2 separate regions of the Homo sapiens genome follow, and region 2 is linked to region 1. A link means that fine-mapping ties the variant in region 1 to the expression of a gene that starts in the linked region. Tissue or cell type: whole blood. Region 1 holds a variant in brackets; the other region holds the start of a gene. All regions are shown on one strand. Distances are from middle to middle.

Region 1 (8,105 bases):
TTGCTCTGCTCCTTTACAGAGATGATGTCCACACTGCCGCCTGTGGAGGGTGTGGAAAGCTTGGTCACTGTTGTAGTGGTGGTTGTGACAGTGGATTTTGCACAATTTTCTGTGGAAGAAACCACAGTTTGCTTATCGCCTTTTTCTACCTTGATCACAGTTTTTGATTCTGTGGCCACTGTGGAGGTCATCGTGGTGACTTCTGTGATGACGGTTTTTCTTTTAGATTCTCCATTGACATTTTCATTTTTGTTGATGGGCAGACCATTTTCATCAATAAAGTCATTACTGAGATTAGATTCCTCTTCAGAAGTAATAGGTGATGAAGTAACTTTCTTAACTTCTGAGGTTTCTATTTCCATATCTTCTACCTGATTAACTGAATTGCTTTCTGGACAAGATGCTGAGGGTGTGGTCGTCTGTGTACTGTCAGACTCTTTGGTTGATGGCAGGGTCTCAAGGCTATCTCGGTAGTTACCTTCAGCATCTGAAGAACTCAGCAAATGCGATTTTGTTTCGGAGCTGTTTCTTTCATTAAAATCTTCCATGATGACATCACCATTAATGAATGGCCTTATAGCAGATTCTTTAACAGTCAATGATTTAATATCATTCTCAGGGATTATTTTATTTATATTATTAACCTTTGGTTCAACATTACCACTTACTACTCTACTCTCAGAAATTTCTTTCAAGCATTCACCTTTCAAATATATTTTGGGTTTATTATCTTTTCCATTTATTTGAAATGTACTTGTTCTCTGTCCTTTCTTTTCAGACTCTCGATTTTCATTATTCTTTTTGTCAGTGGTATTTTTTAGCTTTATTTGATCACTACATTTATTAACTGGTCTCTCCTCTAATTTCTTCTGCTGACTTGGTTTTTTACCATTTGCTTCAGTCCCCTTGACCGGCAGCCTGTCCTCACAGTTTCCAGTGGACTCACCAGAAACCAACTCACACTTTAACGGCTCCAAGACTTCAACATCTTGTTCTCGAGTTCTGAACTGTTCAGAAATGCTTTCATTGCTATTCTGAACAATCATATCTTCTTCACTGCTATCCTGAATAGACACGGTATCAGAACTATTTTCCAAAGTGCTATTAGATTCAGAGTCACATCCCAGTTTTCCTTCAAAGTCCATTGCTCTTGACAGAGGTGTGGCATCTCTGTCATTGGTACTTTTAGGCACTGATGAATGTAAAGCACTCTTGGAAGAAGAAACAATGGTGTCACTTTCCTCCTGTATGAGCGGTTTTTTGTTCTTACAGATCAAAGTACCAATATCATCTGCACTGGCTAGTTTAGAGTCATCGATGAAAAAATCATTTCCTTTTGTTTTACTCTTACTGGGTTCCTGGCCTCTACTGGCAAGGTCAGAGACTTTTTCTTCTATGTCATTTTCAATGGAATTTTGTTTCGGACATTTTGTTTCTGGGCTCCGAATGGAGACATCATCTAACACTCGATCTTTTGGATAAAGTTTGTTTGTGGTATGACTAGGATCACTCATTCTAAGAACTGAGGAATCACTTTCTGAACATCCCTGAATCAAGTCCTCAGGTTGATCATTATTTGCATTTGGGCTCTGTTCTTGTCTCATCGAGTCACTCTGACACCCTTCTTTTGCTTTCGTTATTACTGGTGATTCAGAGAGATTTTTTGAAGAATTTGTAGAAGTCTTTCCTATACCCTTAATTCCACCCTCCAACTTGATTTTTTCGAGTCGCTGTTTTTCTTCCAGTGTAAACTGTTTAATTCTCCTTTCAAGAAGTCCATCTAGTTTGGATGATTTTGTTTTCTTTTTGTAACTAGTCCTTAGATGAAAACCCTCACTAACATTGACCACATCTACTTGAGAACTCTCCTGACAATTTACATGTGACTCTGTTTTCATGTCATCGTCTACTTCCATTGGTTCTTCCTTGCAGGGTTTATCACTGTCAGAATCTAAGAGCTCCTTCACATCTGTGAAACAAAGACATTTATATAAATGTAATTTTTACTCTGAAAGGAGGAATTTATATATATATATTTTTTTTTTTGAGATGGAGTCTCACTCTGTTGCCCAGGCTGGAGTGCAGTGGCATGATCTCAGTTCACTGCAACCTCCGCCTCCTGGGTTCAAGCAATTCTCATGCTTCAGCCTCCCAAGTAGCTGGGATTATAGGCATGTGCCACCATGCCTGGCTTATTTTTGAATTTTCAGTAGAGACAGGGTTTCGCAATGTTGGCCAGGCTGGTCTTGAACTCCTGACTTCAGGTGATCCGCCCACCTCAGCCTCCCAAAGTGCTGAGATTACAGGCATGAGCCACCACGCCCAGCCAAAAATATTTTTTTAAAGTATCTCTAGCCACATGCATTATCTAGCTTATCTAGTTTTTTTTTAAAAATGACTTGTTACAAAAGACAATGTAGTTCCTCAAAAGGTTAAACAGAGTTACCATATGATCCAGTAATTCCATTCCTAGGTATATCGCCAAGAGAAGTGAAAACGCATGGCCACAAAAAACTTCTGCATGAATGTTCATAGCAGCATTATTCGTATAGCCAAAAGAGGAAACAGCCCAATGTCCATCAACTGATGAATGGATAACAAAATGTGGCATATCCATACAGAGTATTATTCAGAAACAAAAAGAAAGTACTGATAAATGCTACAACATGGATGAACCTTAAAACCATGCTAAGTGGATGAAGCCAGCCACAAAGGACCACATATTGTCTGATTCCATTTCTATGGACTGTCCAAAATAGGCAAATCCAGAGAGACAGAAAGTAGACCACTAAGCTGGTGGCACTTTCGGGAGGGGTTGGGAAGTAACTGCTAATGGGTATGAATGAGGCTTCTTTTCAAGGTTATGAAAATGTTCTAAGATTGATGTAATAATGGTTGAACTTTGTGAATATACTAAAAGCCACTGAATTTACACTTTAATTGGGTGAATTGTATGGGATATCAATTATGTTTTGATAAAGCTGTTATCAAGAAAACACAACGCAGTACCTTTCCTGTGGTGGGACCCTGATCCAGTGCATTCTTATCACCCCCAGGCTGCCCTCCACAGCTGACTCTCCTTACCTTGGTCCTTCTTCTCAGTAATCTTTGAGATATCCATTTCATTTTGGTCTGCTCCTTTTGCAGCATCTGAACCTTTTACCTCATCTTTTTCAGAATCAGGCTCTATTTTTATTTTTTTTGGACTTCGTGAACATTTTCTTTTATCTGACTCATCCATATTTTCATCCATATTATTTTTGGCTAAAAAGAACCATGTAACGATAATTTACGTTATTTCCAGAGTATTAGCACTTTAATATGTCAAGTTTAGTGAAAATAAACAAGTAATTTCCAGCAAGTTATGTTTCATTTTTTCATTTAAAAAAAAAAAAAAGACAAAGGTCTTATTGAGTATAAGGTACCATATAATCCTATATGCCTGGCTGACCTAAAACACAGAAGGAATGCCTGAACTTCAGACATTTCAGAAAACTTTGTGAACATTTTTGGTGAAATATGATTTAGGAAATTTGTTTTAAAACACTGCAGGATAAAAAAAAAAAGGGGGGGGGGGACCTGGTGCGGTGGCTCATGCCACTGCACTCCAGCCTGGGTGACAGAGTGAGGCTCTGTGTCCAAAAATTAAAAAAAAAACAAAAAACTGTGATTCAGTAACATAGTCAGCTACAAGATAAACATTAATACTATAGGCTGGTGCGGTGGCTCATGCCTGTAATCCCAGCACTTTGAGGGGCCGAGGTGGGTGCATCACCTGAGGTCAGGAGTTTGAGACCAGCCTGGCTAACATGGTGAAACCCGATCTCTACTAAAAATACAAAAATTATCTGGGTGTGGTGGTGCACACCTGTGATCTCAGCTACTCAGGAGGCTGAGGCAGGAGAA[T/C]TGCTTGAACCCAGGAGGCGGAGGTCGCAGTGAGCTGAGGTCACGCCACTGCACTCCAGCCTGGGCGACAGAGTGAGACTCCGTGTCAACAAAAAAAAAAAAAAAAAAAAAAATTGTCAGTGACAACTGAAACAAGAGTGATAAAATTTGGATGGGTGTAGTGGCTTATGCCTGTAATCCCAGCACTTTGGGATGCCAAGGTGGGCGGATCACTTGAGGACAAGGAGTTCAAGACCAGCCTAGCCAACATGGTGAAACCCCGCCTCTATTAAAAATACAAAAATTAGCCAGGCATGGTGGCGTGCAACTGTGATCCCTACTCAGGAGGCTGAGGCAGGAGAATCGCTGGAACCTGGGAGTTGGAGGCTGCAGTGAACTGAGATCGTACCACTGCACTCCAGCCTGGGTGACAGAGTGAGACTCCATCTCAAAAAAAAAAAAAAAAAAAGTGGTCAGTGACAACTGAAACAAATGTGATAAAATTTGGGTGAGTGTGGTGGCTCATGCCTGTAATCCCAGCACTTTGGGAGGCTGAGGCAGGCAGATCACTTGAGGCCAGGAGTTCAACACCAGCCCAACAAGGTGAAACCCCATCTCTACTAAAAATACAAAAATTAGCCAGTCATGGTGGTACGAGCCTGTAGTCCCAGCTACTTGGGAGACTGAAGCAGGAGAATTGCTTCAACCTGGGAGGCAGAGTTTGCAGCGAGCTGAGATGGTGCCACTGCACTCCAGCCTGGCTGACAGAGCAAGACTCTGTCACACACATAAAAAAATAAAATGAAAGAAAACTCGTGTATGAAGGATTATCACAATCTATTTGATCATTCCAGAAAGCCCATATCAGTGGTTTCTAACATACTTTGTGTCACAGAACCCTATTAGAAATGGATAAATGCTATGATCCTCTACCAAGGAAAAAAGTATGTATATAAACTTTTGTAATCTATTTCAATGGTTCTTGGACTCCTTGAAGTTTATATAACAGAATAAAAGACTGAAAAAAAGGATCAAAGGCAATCTGTGGCCTTGTTTACTGCTTACAGTAAAAAGGTATCTCTAAGACAACCAGGGCAAGTGGAATATGGACTGAGAATCAGATTATTAATTTGTTAATTACGGTTAATTTGTTGAGTGTGATAATGACATGATGGTTATGGAAAAATGTCTACGTAGAGATACATATTGAACTTCTGGTGAAACATGATTTCTGGGATTTATTTTAAAACACTGCAGGATTAAAAAAAGTGGTCAGTGACAACTAAACAAAGAGTGATAAAATTTGGCTGGGAGCAGTGACTCACACCTGTAATCCCAGCACTTTGGGAGGCCGAGGCAGGCAGATCACTTGAAGTCAGGAGTTCGAGATCAGCCTGGCCAACATGGCAAAACCCCGTCTCTATTAAAAATACAAAAATTAGCTCGGCGTGGTGGCGGGTACTTGTAATCCCAGCTATTTGGGAGGCTGAGGCAAGAGAATTGATTGAACCCGGGAGGTGGAGGTTGCAGTGAGCTGAGACCATGCCACTGCACTCTAGCCTGGGTGACAGAGCAAAACTCCATCTCAAAAAAAAAAAAAAAGTGATAAACTTTGATAATTGTTGAAGCTGAATGAGTTCATTATTCTCTTTGTATTTGTGTAGTTTTAAATTTCCCATAATAATTACAAAAAAAAAAAAAAAATCAAGCCTCCCAAAACAGAACTACTGTCTAGATGAATATTCTTGGGACTTAAAGGTTTTTTTTTTTTTTTTGGAGACAGTGTCTTGCTCTGTCACCCAGGCTGGAGCACAGTGGGTTCATCTCAGCTCACTGCAGCCTTGAACTCCTGGGCTCAAACGATCCTCCCTCATCAGCCTCCTGAGTAACTGGGAATACAGGTGTGTACCAATATGTCTGGCTAATTTTTGCATTTTTTGTAGAGATGGGGATTTGCCATGTTGCCCAGGCTGTTTCTTGAACTCCTGGGCTCAACTGATCCTCCCCTGCCTTGGCATCCCATCACAGGTGTGAGCCATGGCACCTGGACTTAAAGGCATTTTCCTATTCTTTACCTTCTTCACTTGAACCTAAATATCCCAAGGACCTAGCAAGGTATATCCATTTTTTATTTAAATGAATGATTTCTTCCAGAAAGGTCTGGCTGAAGGGAAGAGAGTGCAAAGAAATCATAATTCTGTCGCGAGCAAGATACTGGTGTGAGAAAATAGATATAAAAAATATATCTATTTTTAATTTAAATGAATGATTTCTTCCAGAAAGGTCTGGCTGAAGAAAGAGAAGAGAGTGCAAAGAAACCGTAATCCTGTCAAGAGCAGGATAGTGGTGAGGTAAGAGAAGAATCACAGAAAAGGGCTTGGGACCTGCCAGCGTTCTATCACTCTGTGCATATGTGGTCTTCACTATGTCACCTGGCACCCTCGTGAAATAATCGGCTCATTGAACTTGAGTTTAAAAACACATGATCTTTTAAAAGAGCAGTTCATCTCTATAGAGTTCGGTGATTCTAAATACTAAAGCTCATTAGCCAGTTGTAAAAACTCAATTAATAGCTTATTTATAGGCCAGGCGCAGTGGTCACACCTGTAATCCCAGCACTTTGGGAGGCCGAGGCGGGCAGATCACAAAGTCAAGAGATTGAGACCACCCTGGCCAACATAGTGAAACCCTGTCTCTATAAAAAATACAAAAATTAGCTGGGCATGGTGGTGTGCACTTTTAGTCCCAGCTACTCGGGAGGCTGAGGCAGGAGAACTGCTTGAACCCAGGAGGCGGAGGTTGCAGTGAGGCCAGATACGCCACTGCACTCCAGCCTGGTGACAGAGCAAGACTCCATTTCAAAAAAACAAAAACAACCCCTCCCCCCAAAAAAAACCTCATTATTTTTTTAAATTATACTTTAGTTCTAGGGTACGTGCGCACAACGTGCAGGTTTGTGACATATGTATACATGTGCCATGTTGGTGTGCTGCACCCATTAACTCTACATTTACATTAGGTATATCTCCTAATGCTATCCCCCAACCTCCCCCAACCCCACGACAGGCCCCGGTGTGTGATGTTCCCCATCCTGTGTCCAAATGTTCTCACTGAAAAACCTCATTTATGTGACAGTGTTTTGGAAGCCTCTATCACTTTCTTTCTGGTTTTCTCTTACTTGCAACAATGCTAAGGTTACTAGATACATGACTCCTCAGTGAATTAGTACTGAATTAAGATTTTTTTTTTTAAGAGATTGAGTCTGGTTCTGTCATCCAGGCTCGAGTGCAACAGCACAATTATAGCTTACTGCAGCCTCAAACTCCTGGCCTCAAGCAATCCTCCTGCCTCAGACCCCCAAGTAGCTGGGACCACAGCCATGTGGCACTACACCTGGCTAATTTTTAAAACGTTTTTGTAGAGATGGGGTCTTGCTATGTTGCCCAGGCTGGCCTTGAACTCCTGGCCTCAAGTGATCCTCCTGCCTCAGCCTCCCAAAGCACTGGGATTATAGGTGTAAGCCACTGTGGCTGGCCTGAATTTTTTTTTTTTTGAGACAGAGTCTTGCTCTGTCACCTAGGCTGGAGTGCAGTGGTGCAATCTTGGTTCACTGCAACCTCTGCCTCCTGGGTTTAAGCCATTCTCCTGCCTCAGCCTCCTCAGTAGCTGGGATCACAGGCGTGTACCAGCACACCCAGCAAATTTTGTATTTTTAGTAGAGACAGGGTTTCACCATGTTAGCCAGGTAGTCTAGAACTCCTGACCTCAAGTAATCCACCTGCCTCAGCCTCCCACAGTGCTGGGATTACAGGCGTGAACCACCGCGCCTGGCTGCCTGGCCTAAATTTAAGATTTTGAAAAATGATAATCAGGCGGCTGAGGCGTCTTCTAAAAAACAAGTTCCATTCTACAATCTTACGGAAATCTGAGACATCAAATTCCTGTGAATAAAGGTAATTTTTAAAGTTTTAGGGTTTTAGTAAACTAAACTAGTAATTCTGCAGTACGAATAAAAATTTCAGAAAAATGTTTTTATCTAAAATATAGTCAAAATACTACAAATTTATAAGAAATATAAAGCAGAAACGATTATGCAGGACATGTAATTTTAATTACTTACTTCCTTCTAACGACTTTCTGTAATTCACATTAGTATTGCCTGGCAATTTAGGAACAAACCTATAAACATGAGTTTTACTAATCCAGCTCCAACCACCATA
Region 2 (8,105 bases), 87 kb before region 1:
TGCCCAGGCTGGTCTTGAATTCCTAAACTCAAGTGATCCGCCCGCCTCAACCTTCCAAAGTGCCAGGATTACATGTGTGAGCCACTGCGCCTGGACTTCAAATTCTTTATTATACAACACAGAGTAGATGCTCAATAAATATCTGCTAAGCAGAAACACACACTCAAAATACCAGAAATTATCAAGGAAGGGAATGCCAGTTGGTCTCTTGGGTTCTTCCTCCTGACAGGTATACACACCTATTGCAGAGACAAACACTTAGGCTGTCAGAAACCAATACTGTTAAACATTCCAATCAGGTGACAAACTCCCCAGGCTCTGGTTTATATTACCAAGCACCCTGAGGATAACTTGGCTTCCTCTGTGGCTTGTTTATAGAAAGAGAATGCTACCCAGGCTGACATGAGTTTGCATTTCTGATTTGATTTCTCATTGTAAATTAATAAACTGGCATTCTGGCTACATAGATCAGTCTCTTTGAACTCTTTGTACCTTCCACCATTAGTGTGGTTTCTTTTTTTTCTTCTTCTTCTTTTTTGAGACGAAGTCTCGCTCTTGTCCCCTAGGCTGGAGTGCGATGGTGCGATCTCGGCTCACTGCAACCTCCGCCTCCCGGGTTCAAGCGATTCTCCTGCCTCAGCCTACCAAGTAGCTGGGATTACAGGCACCTGCCACCATGCCTGGCTATTTTTGTATTTTTAGTAGAGACAGGGTTTCACCATGTTGGTCAGGCTGGTCTCAAACTCCTGACCTCAGGTGATCCGCCCACCTCAGCCTCCCAAAGGGCTGAGATTACAGGCGTGAGCCACCGCGCCTGGCCCATTAGTGTGATTTCTAAGGCTCAAGCCAGACACTGCCCAAGACCCAGGACTGGACTCTGGCAGGTTCTTCCAGCTGGTGCCACCCCAGGAGCCTCTGGGAGCCCCTGGGAGCCATCCAGCCTGCTCCCTGCCTCTACATTTCAGGGTGTGGGTTTCAGGGCATTCACAACATTCCTGCAACAGAAGAGTTTCGGGAACACCCCCAATAGGTTCTGGGTGATTTGAATGTAATGGTAAGAAGGTATGTTAGAGATGTGGTTGTAACTGAGAAATCTTAAGCCTAGTGAATTTTATTCCACTTGACTTAAAGAAAGAGCACGTGAAAGAAGGGGATCTGAGGACATCTATAAACAGGGCCCCAAGGGCATGAATTTACTAGTGTTTATCTGGTCTTGTCTAGGGTCTGGAGACCCTGACTCTGGTATACCCAAGCTTTGCAGGGGCTGTAGAGGTTTACTCTTTTGGATGGAGAATATAATTCACTCCTCTAACACCTGAATGAGGGAAGATTAGCTCATCTCCTTAGCTGCAATTTGATTTAATGCTCAACAGGCAAATTTCTTTTCTTTTTTTTCTTTTTCTTTTTCTTTTTTTTTTTTTTTTTTTGAGACAGAGTCCTGTGCTGTTGCCCAGGCTGGAGTGTAGTGGCGCAGTCTTGGCTCACTGCAACTTCTGCCTCCTGGGTTCAAGCGATTCTCCTCCCTCAGCCTCCCAAGTAGCTGGGATTACAGGTGCCCGCCACCATGACTCGCTAATTTTTGTATTTTTAGTAGATATGGGGTTTTACTATGTTGGCCAGGCTGGTCTCGAACTCCTGACCTCGTGATCTGCCCACCTTGGCCTCCCAGAGTGTTGGGATTACAGGTTGAGCCACCGCACCCAGCCAGCAAATTTATTTTCTTTGATTTAATGCTCAACAGGCAAACTTCTTTCCTCCTCCTCCTCCTCTTCCTCCTCTCCTTCTTTTTTTTTTTTTTTTTTTTTTTTGAGACAGAGTCTCACTCTGTCACCCAGGCTGGAGGGCAGGGCAGTGGCGCCACACTGCAAGCTCCGCCTCCCAGGTTCACGCCAGTCTCCTGCCTCAGCCTCCTGAGTAGCTGGGACTACAGGCGCCCGCCACCACGCCCGGCTAATTTTTTGTATTTTCAGTAGAGACGGGGTTTCACTGTGTCAGCCAGGATGGTCTGGATCTCCTGGCCTCGTGATCGACCCACCTTGTCCTCCCAAAGTGCTGGGATTACAGGCGTGAGCCACCACACCTGGCCCTGCTCTCCTTCTTCTTCTTCTTCGTTCTCCTCCTCCTCCTCTTTTTTTTTTTCTTTTTGAGACAAAAGTCTCACTCTATCACCCAGGCTGGAGTGCAATGGCATAGTCTCAGCTCACTGCAACCTTTGCCTCCCAGGTTCAAGCGATTCTCCTGCCTCAGCCTCCTGAGTAGCTGGGACTACAGGTGTGTGCCACCACACCCTGCTAACTTTTTTGTAATTTTAGTAGAGACAGGGTTGCACTAATTTGGCCAGGCTGGTCTTGAACTCCTGACCTCGTGATCCGCCTGCCTTGGCCTCCCAAAATGCTGGGATTACAGGCGTGAGCCACTGTGCCTGGCTCCTCCTCTTTCTTTTCTTTCTTCTTCTTCTTCTTCTTCTTTTTTTTTTTTTTTTTTTTTTGAGACAGGGCCTCTCTCTGTCACCCAGGCTGGAGTGCAGTGGCACAATCTCGGCTCACTGCAACCTCCACCTCCTAGGCTCAAGTGATCCTCCCACCTCAGCCTCCCAAGTGGCTGGGACCACAGATGCGAGCCACCATGCCTGGCTAATTTTTGTATTTTTTGTAGAGACAGGTTCTCTCCATGTTGCTCAGGCTGGTCTTGAACTCCTGAGCTCAAGAGATCCTCCTGTCTCGGGCTCCCAAAGTACTGGGATTACAGGCATGAACCACCCTGCCTGGCCTCAACAGGCAACATTCTGATTAATAATTAGACCTCTGGGCCCGGCGTGGTGGCTCATGCTGTAATCCCAGCACTTTGGGAGGCCAAGGTGGGTGGATCACTTGAGGTCAGGAGTTTGAGACCAGCCTGGCCAACACGGTGAAATCCCGTCTCTGCTAAAAATACAAAAATTAGCCTCGCATGGTGGCATATGCCTGTAATCCCAGCTACTTGAGAGGCTGAGGCACGAGAATCGCTTTAGTCCGGGAGGCAGAGGTTACAATGAGCTGTGATATATAATGAAACAGTTTTACTAAGGAAGCAGTGACTTGGTTTCTCTAGAAATTGCCTAACACACACATTCCAGGATACATTCTCTGTCATCTGGAATCTCCCTTCCACAAACCCACGCTGTCTTAAGCACTATTTTCCTATTTGTTGTTGACCTAATCTAGAAAAAAGCTCCCGTCACTCGTTCTCCCCCACCCAGTCCCTCAGTCCCGAAACACGCTTATTCTCTGCACTTGTCACCCCACCCTTTGCTGCCCCCACCCCAGCGCGCAAACGCACACAGGTTTAAAGTTTAGGCTGTGATGCTCTCCTCGCCCGCAGATCACAGGACAGACATTCCCGGGGACAACTTTGCAAGGCCATGTGCTCGTCCTCCTTAGGAAGGAAGAGGGAGAAATCCCTGCGGCTCGGTTTTGTTCCAATGGTCTGCTCAGCGAGTGATTCCCGTTTCCCCAAAGGCTGCCCCTCATTAGCATGAACGGGGGTGGGGGTGTGGAGAAGGGGTTGGGGGAGAGAAAGCAAGCAAAAGACCAGGCTCACTTTTAGAGCCTGGGAACCCTGTCTGCAAAAATGACAGCTAGAGCTTTCTGGCTCCTCTGTTTGATCGTCGGATCATCCCCCGAAGCACCGGTGGCGGAGAGAAAAAGTAAGATTGGTGTAGTGCGGGGCCCTGGGAGCGGAGCGGGGATCTGTGGGGGGGAGCTGGGAAGGAGGCTCAGTGAAACGTGGGACGAGGAGGGGGGTCAGAGCTCGCAAGAGAGGACACCCCGGGTCTGCGTTCGTCTTATAAAGGAGCAAAGTGTGTCCCCAAGGTTTCGTGTCTCTTGGCAGCCTTTTCGGAAAGAAGCCAATTTAGCTACTGAAATGATCCCGAGCAAGCCGGGCAGGCTGGGGAAAACTTTGCATGTTAAGTAGTTGCTCCATCACGGAGGAGGGAAAGTGTCAAAAGGGGTCGTGGCGCGCCTTTCGGGAGCCGTGCCCGGGCCGGGCTCGCAGGACGCCGCGGGGTCCGCCCCCCTCGACTGGGTGAGCAGGGGCTGCGGGGGGCGCTGTGGAGGGCTGGGGGGAAGCGGGGCCGAAATCCGGCAGCCCCGGGCACTTTGCTCTCCCCGCAGCCCCAGCGCACAACCTTGGGACACCTGAGCCGGGGTTTAACTAACACGCACACACTCTTATACTTCATGCACGAAATGAAATTAAGTTACTCAGCCCGTGAAGAAATGAGGGGTTCTCTGGGGGATCGTGTTTTTGTTTTGCTTTTATTTGGATGTTCTGTCGGCTTCGCTATCTCTGGGAAAAACAGTTTCCGTACCTCACAGGGCAATTTACTCTGGGTTATTTTTCCACATGGAAATTGAATGACTTCAGTGGCATTTAACCCAAATATCAGACAATCTTTCCCATGACAACAGATGGTTATATCAATGGGGAAGCAGTTGTGAGGTCAACAGTTGACAGTCAGGAATTGGATATCCACCAGAACTTTATTCAGCTGTGCATGGCACAACCGTTTAACAACATAATGAGTCAGAATCAACCTCTTTGCAAAAACATGAACTCTAACCAGCTATTATTGCTGGGTGAAAGCTGATTTTAAAGCAGATTATCGATTTGGCAAGACTGATCAACTTTAAATGAAGTGTTGCCAGAGCTGCAAATGGGCAGATCCATCTCTTTAATGCAAGGGGAGAGAAAAATAAAGGCTAGTTCTTGCCTGTTTGGAGGGCACTGGGACCCAGGCAAGCAAGGAGGTGAAATTGTGTAACTGGTATGGAAAGGTGCCCAGCTCCCAAGCTGGCTGAGGTTTACTCACCAACCTGTCTGCAGAACTAGGGAAAATCATTAATAATTTTAAAAATTTGTTTTCATGCCATACCATTTAGGAGTCTTTCCTCCATCATCTAATGGGGAAAAAAATGTAAGCGACGTGTGCTTTTATACTTAACCAGGGGCCTCTCTGCCTCCCAGCCAAGCTTTTAAAACCTTCCTTAGCTGTGGTTTACCAGTAAGTGGTGTCCAAGAAGCCAGATAAAAATCCACTTACAAATGCTCGATTCTGCAGAGACCGGGATGACAGTGTAAACATGGATGGGAAAACCAAATAGTTCTGTTGTCAGGGGCGCTTAAAGAATTAGGAGAACCTGTAATATGAGACCTTTCCCCCTGGGGTTTGCTCTTGGTACTTTCTCAACAAACTGTAAATAGCAAAGAGGCGGATGTTTATATATGTTTTATATATATATATATATATACACACACACACACACACACACACGCACACGCACACATACACACATATACGTATATATTAAAGGAAGGGCAAAAAAGTTTGTTATCTAACCAGTGTTGTAAGACATGTTTAGTCTTAGAGTAAATAGGGGGTTGTAATTTTAAAAGCTATAATCTTAGAGGTCAAGACCCTCGTATCCTTCTTCCTTTGGGGCCTGGGAAGCGCGTGCCCCGCTTGGCCGCGACGCTGCGTCCGGGTTCTCCCTGCTTCACTTCCAGGCCTCCGGGCCTCCCTCCCATCTCTCCTCTTGCAGGTGCCTGCGAAGCCTCCCTTGTCCTCTATCTCCTCTCCCCCTCCCAGAGCCCTTCTTCTGCAGCGCCCCTGCCCCACTAGCGGCCTCCTCCCCTCCTGGCTTCCCTTCCCCTCTCGGCCTCCCGTCTCAGCCTCCCCTTCCCTCTTCTTCCTTCTCGGCTTCCTCGGCTTTCCCCGACGGCCTCCCCTCACTGCTTCTCCTCCCCCACCGCCTTCCCGCCTCTCCTCTTCTCTCCCCACAGCCTCGCCGCCGCACAGCAGAAAGCCGGACTCCCGCGGCTGCCCGAGCGCGGAGGAGACACCGGGGCCCCGCGCGCAGCCACTCCTTGAGGCCCCGCAGCGGCCGCGCGCGGCCGAGGTCGCTCCCGCCGCCCGCGCCTGGCCTGACCCGCGCCGCCGGAAGCCCCCACCGCCGGCCGACAACCAGGCCAGCTTCCGGGAGGCCGCACGCGCGCCCGCTGGCCCGCCGGGCCCGCGCCTGGCGCAAGCCGAGAACCGCGCGTCGCCGCGCCGCGAGCCCGCGTCGGAGGACGCCCCGCGACGCGCGCGCTCACGGGCCCTGCGCTTCCCCGCCGCCCGGCCGCCCGCGCTCGCCACCGAGGGCTCCGCCGGCCACGCCCACCCCAACCGGCCGCGCGCCGCCGCGCTGGCCCCGGGACCCGCGCCCGCGCCGCCGCCGCGCTTCAGCCTCAGCTTCGGCCTCAGCCCGCCGCAGAGGGACGCGGAGCCCGGCGCTGAGCCCTGCGCGCGCGCCTGCCGGTCCGATCTGGACGAACGCGAGGCGTTCTGCGAGAGCGAATTCGGTGAGCCCGGCCGCCGCGCCGCCGCCCCGCCGCCCCGCGAGCCTTTCCGAGCCCCGGAGAATCCGCCCGCGAGATCCCAGGGCGCCTGACCCGTGCGGGCCGTTTCGCGGTTGCTAAAAACCACCTCCTGGGGGACTGGGAGAGGAACTCGGGGTAATGCTCTTCTCCAAACTGTTTTTCGGAAGCAGCGGTGAACGGGATCGTGCACGATGTGGACGTGCTGGGCGCGGGCATCCGGCTGGTGACCCTGCTGGTGGATCGGGACGGGCTGTACAAGATGAACCGCCTGTACCTCACCCCCGACGGCTTCTTCTTCCGAGTCCACATGTTAGCCCTGGACTCCTCCAGCTGCAATAAGCCGTGTCCAGAGTTTAAACCTGGTATTGAAACTGACCTGAATGACGCTGCATATGTACTTTATACCACCGTTTGTAACGTGGGTGCCACAGCCCGGGCTGTAGGTCGCCCAGCCTTTTTTTGGGAGCGATGGGAAACAATGACATGAATGGGATTTAGACGACAGGTATTATTCCGGCCACTCTGTGATTTAAGCCCTGTCAGCCCCCACCCTCAAGGGTGAGAACAGCAAGGGTTGGCACAAAGCGGGCTGTCAATAAATAGATGTTGACAAATGGGGTGGACGACCAAACACCATTGCCAGAAGGGACTGTACAGAACCGAGTTTAGAAAAGCTGCTTTTTTGGGTGTGTATGTGGGGTTGGTAGCGGGGAATACCCACTCCCACATCTTTCTAGACATGTGCTCTGGGAAATCCTGATAGATTGTGATAAGGACCTTTGTTCTGTAATGTGGTCCGGTTACATACTGCTTTTTTTTTTTTTTTTTTTTTTTTTTTGAGATTGAGTCTTGCCCTGTCGCCCAGGCTGGAGTGCAGTGGTTCGATCTCGGCTCACTGCACCCTCCACCTGCCGGGTTCAAGCGATTATCCTGCCTCAGCCTCCCAAGCAGCTGGGGTTACAGGCATGCGCCACCACGCCCTGCCAATTTTTGTATTTTTAGTAGAGACGGGGTTTCACCATGTTGGCCAGGCTGGTCTCAAACTCCTGACCTCAAGTGAGCTGCCCACCTCGGCCTCCCAAAGTGCTGGGATTAAAGGCGTGAGCCACCACACCGGCCTGGTTGGTTATCTTGTAAAGGTGGCTAGGCTGTTTCCACCAGATGCCTGTAGACTCAATATCAGTTTCAACTTGTGCAGCAAGATAATAGATTGCAGCTTAGGCGTTTCTTAAAGGCCTTACATTTTCTGTTTCATGGCATTTAAAAGACACTATGAATTAATGTTCTGGTTATTTTGTCCAGGCAGCAGGTATATTGTGATGGGCCACATCTACCATAAGAGACGGCAGCTCCCTACAGCTCTGCTCCAGGTCCTGAGAGGCCGCCTCCGTCCAGGGGATGGACTGCTAAGGAGCAGCAGCAGCTATGTGAAAAGGTTTAATCGAAAAAGGGAAGGGCAGATTCAAGGTGCAATTCATACCCAATGCATTTGAAACAACCATCCTGGCATTTCTGGACCGCAAGAGACTTGGACGTCGGCAACAAGACATGAAAGGTCTACCTTCATGTAATGGGTCCTCCTTCAGAAGAGAGCCCTCAGCTACTCTGTGAATGACTTGCATAGCTGCAACTGTAATCTCGAAGGTGTCACTTTGTTATTTACAAGATGCTTCTTAAATGGGCTGCTCCTGAGCTCAGTGTCA

Evidence for each region. PIP is the estimated chance that this variant, and not a neighbour inherited with it, causes the effect.
Region 2: C17orf58 starts here. The variant in region 1 is fine-mapped to the expression of C17orf58 in whole blood (INTERVAL, PIP 0.98).

What each region holds. Positions count from the first base shown.
Region 1 is chr17:67,904,741-67,912,845 of GRCh38, reverse strand. BPTF (bromodomain PHD finger transcription factor) reads right to left here. Exons shown (of 28, transcript NM_182641.4): 9 at 8,006-8,105; 10 at 3,085-3,264; 11 at 1-1,969. Among named protein-coding and RNA genes, the nearest start is that of BPTF, 83 kb to the right of the region's middle. The variant T/C (reference allele first, on the strand shown) is at 3,907.
Region 2 is chr17:67,991,703-67,999,807 of GRCh38, reverse strand. C17orf58 (chromosome 17 open reading frame 58) reads left to right here and starts at 3,339. Exons shown (of 4, transcript NM_001382359.1): 1 at 3,339-3,685; 2 at 5,824-6,384; 3 at 6,573-6,764; 4 at 7,705-8,105. The coding sequence starts at 3,610. The coding sequence ends at 7,895. RefSeq lists silencers at 4,020-4,109, 5,864-6,123, 6,174-6,253, 6,364-6,423 and an enhancer at 6,664-6,713.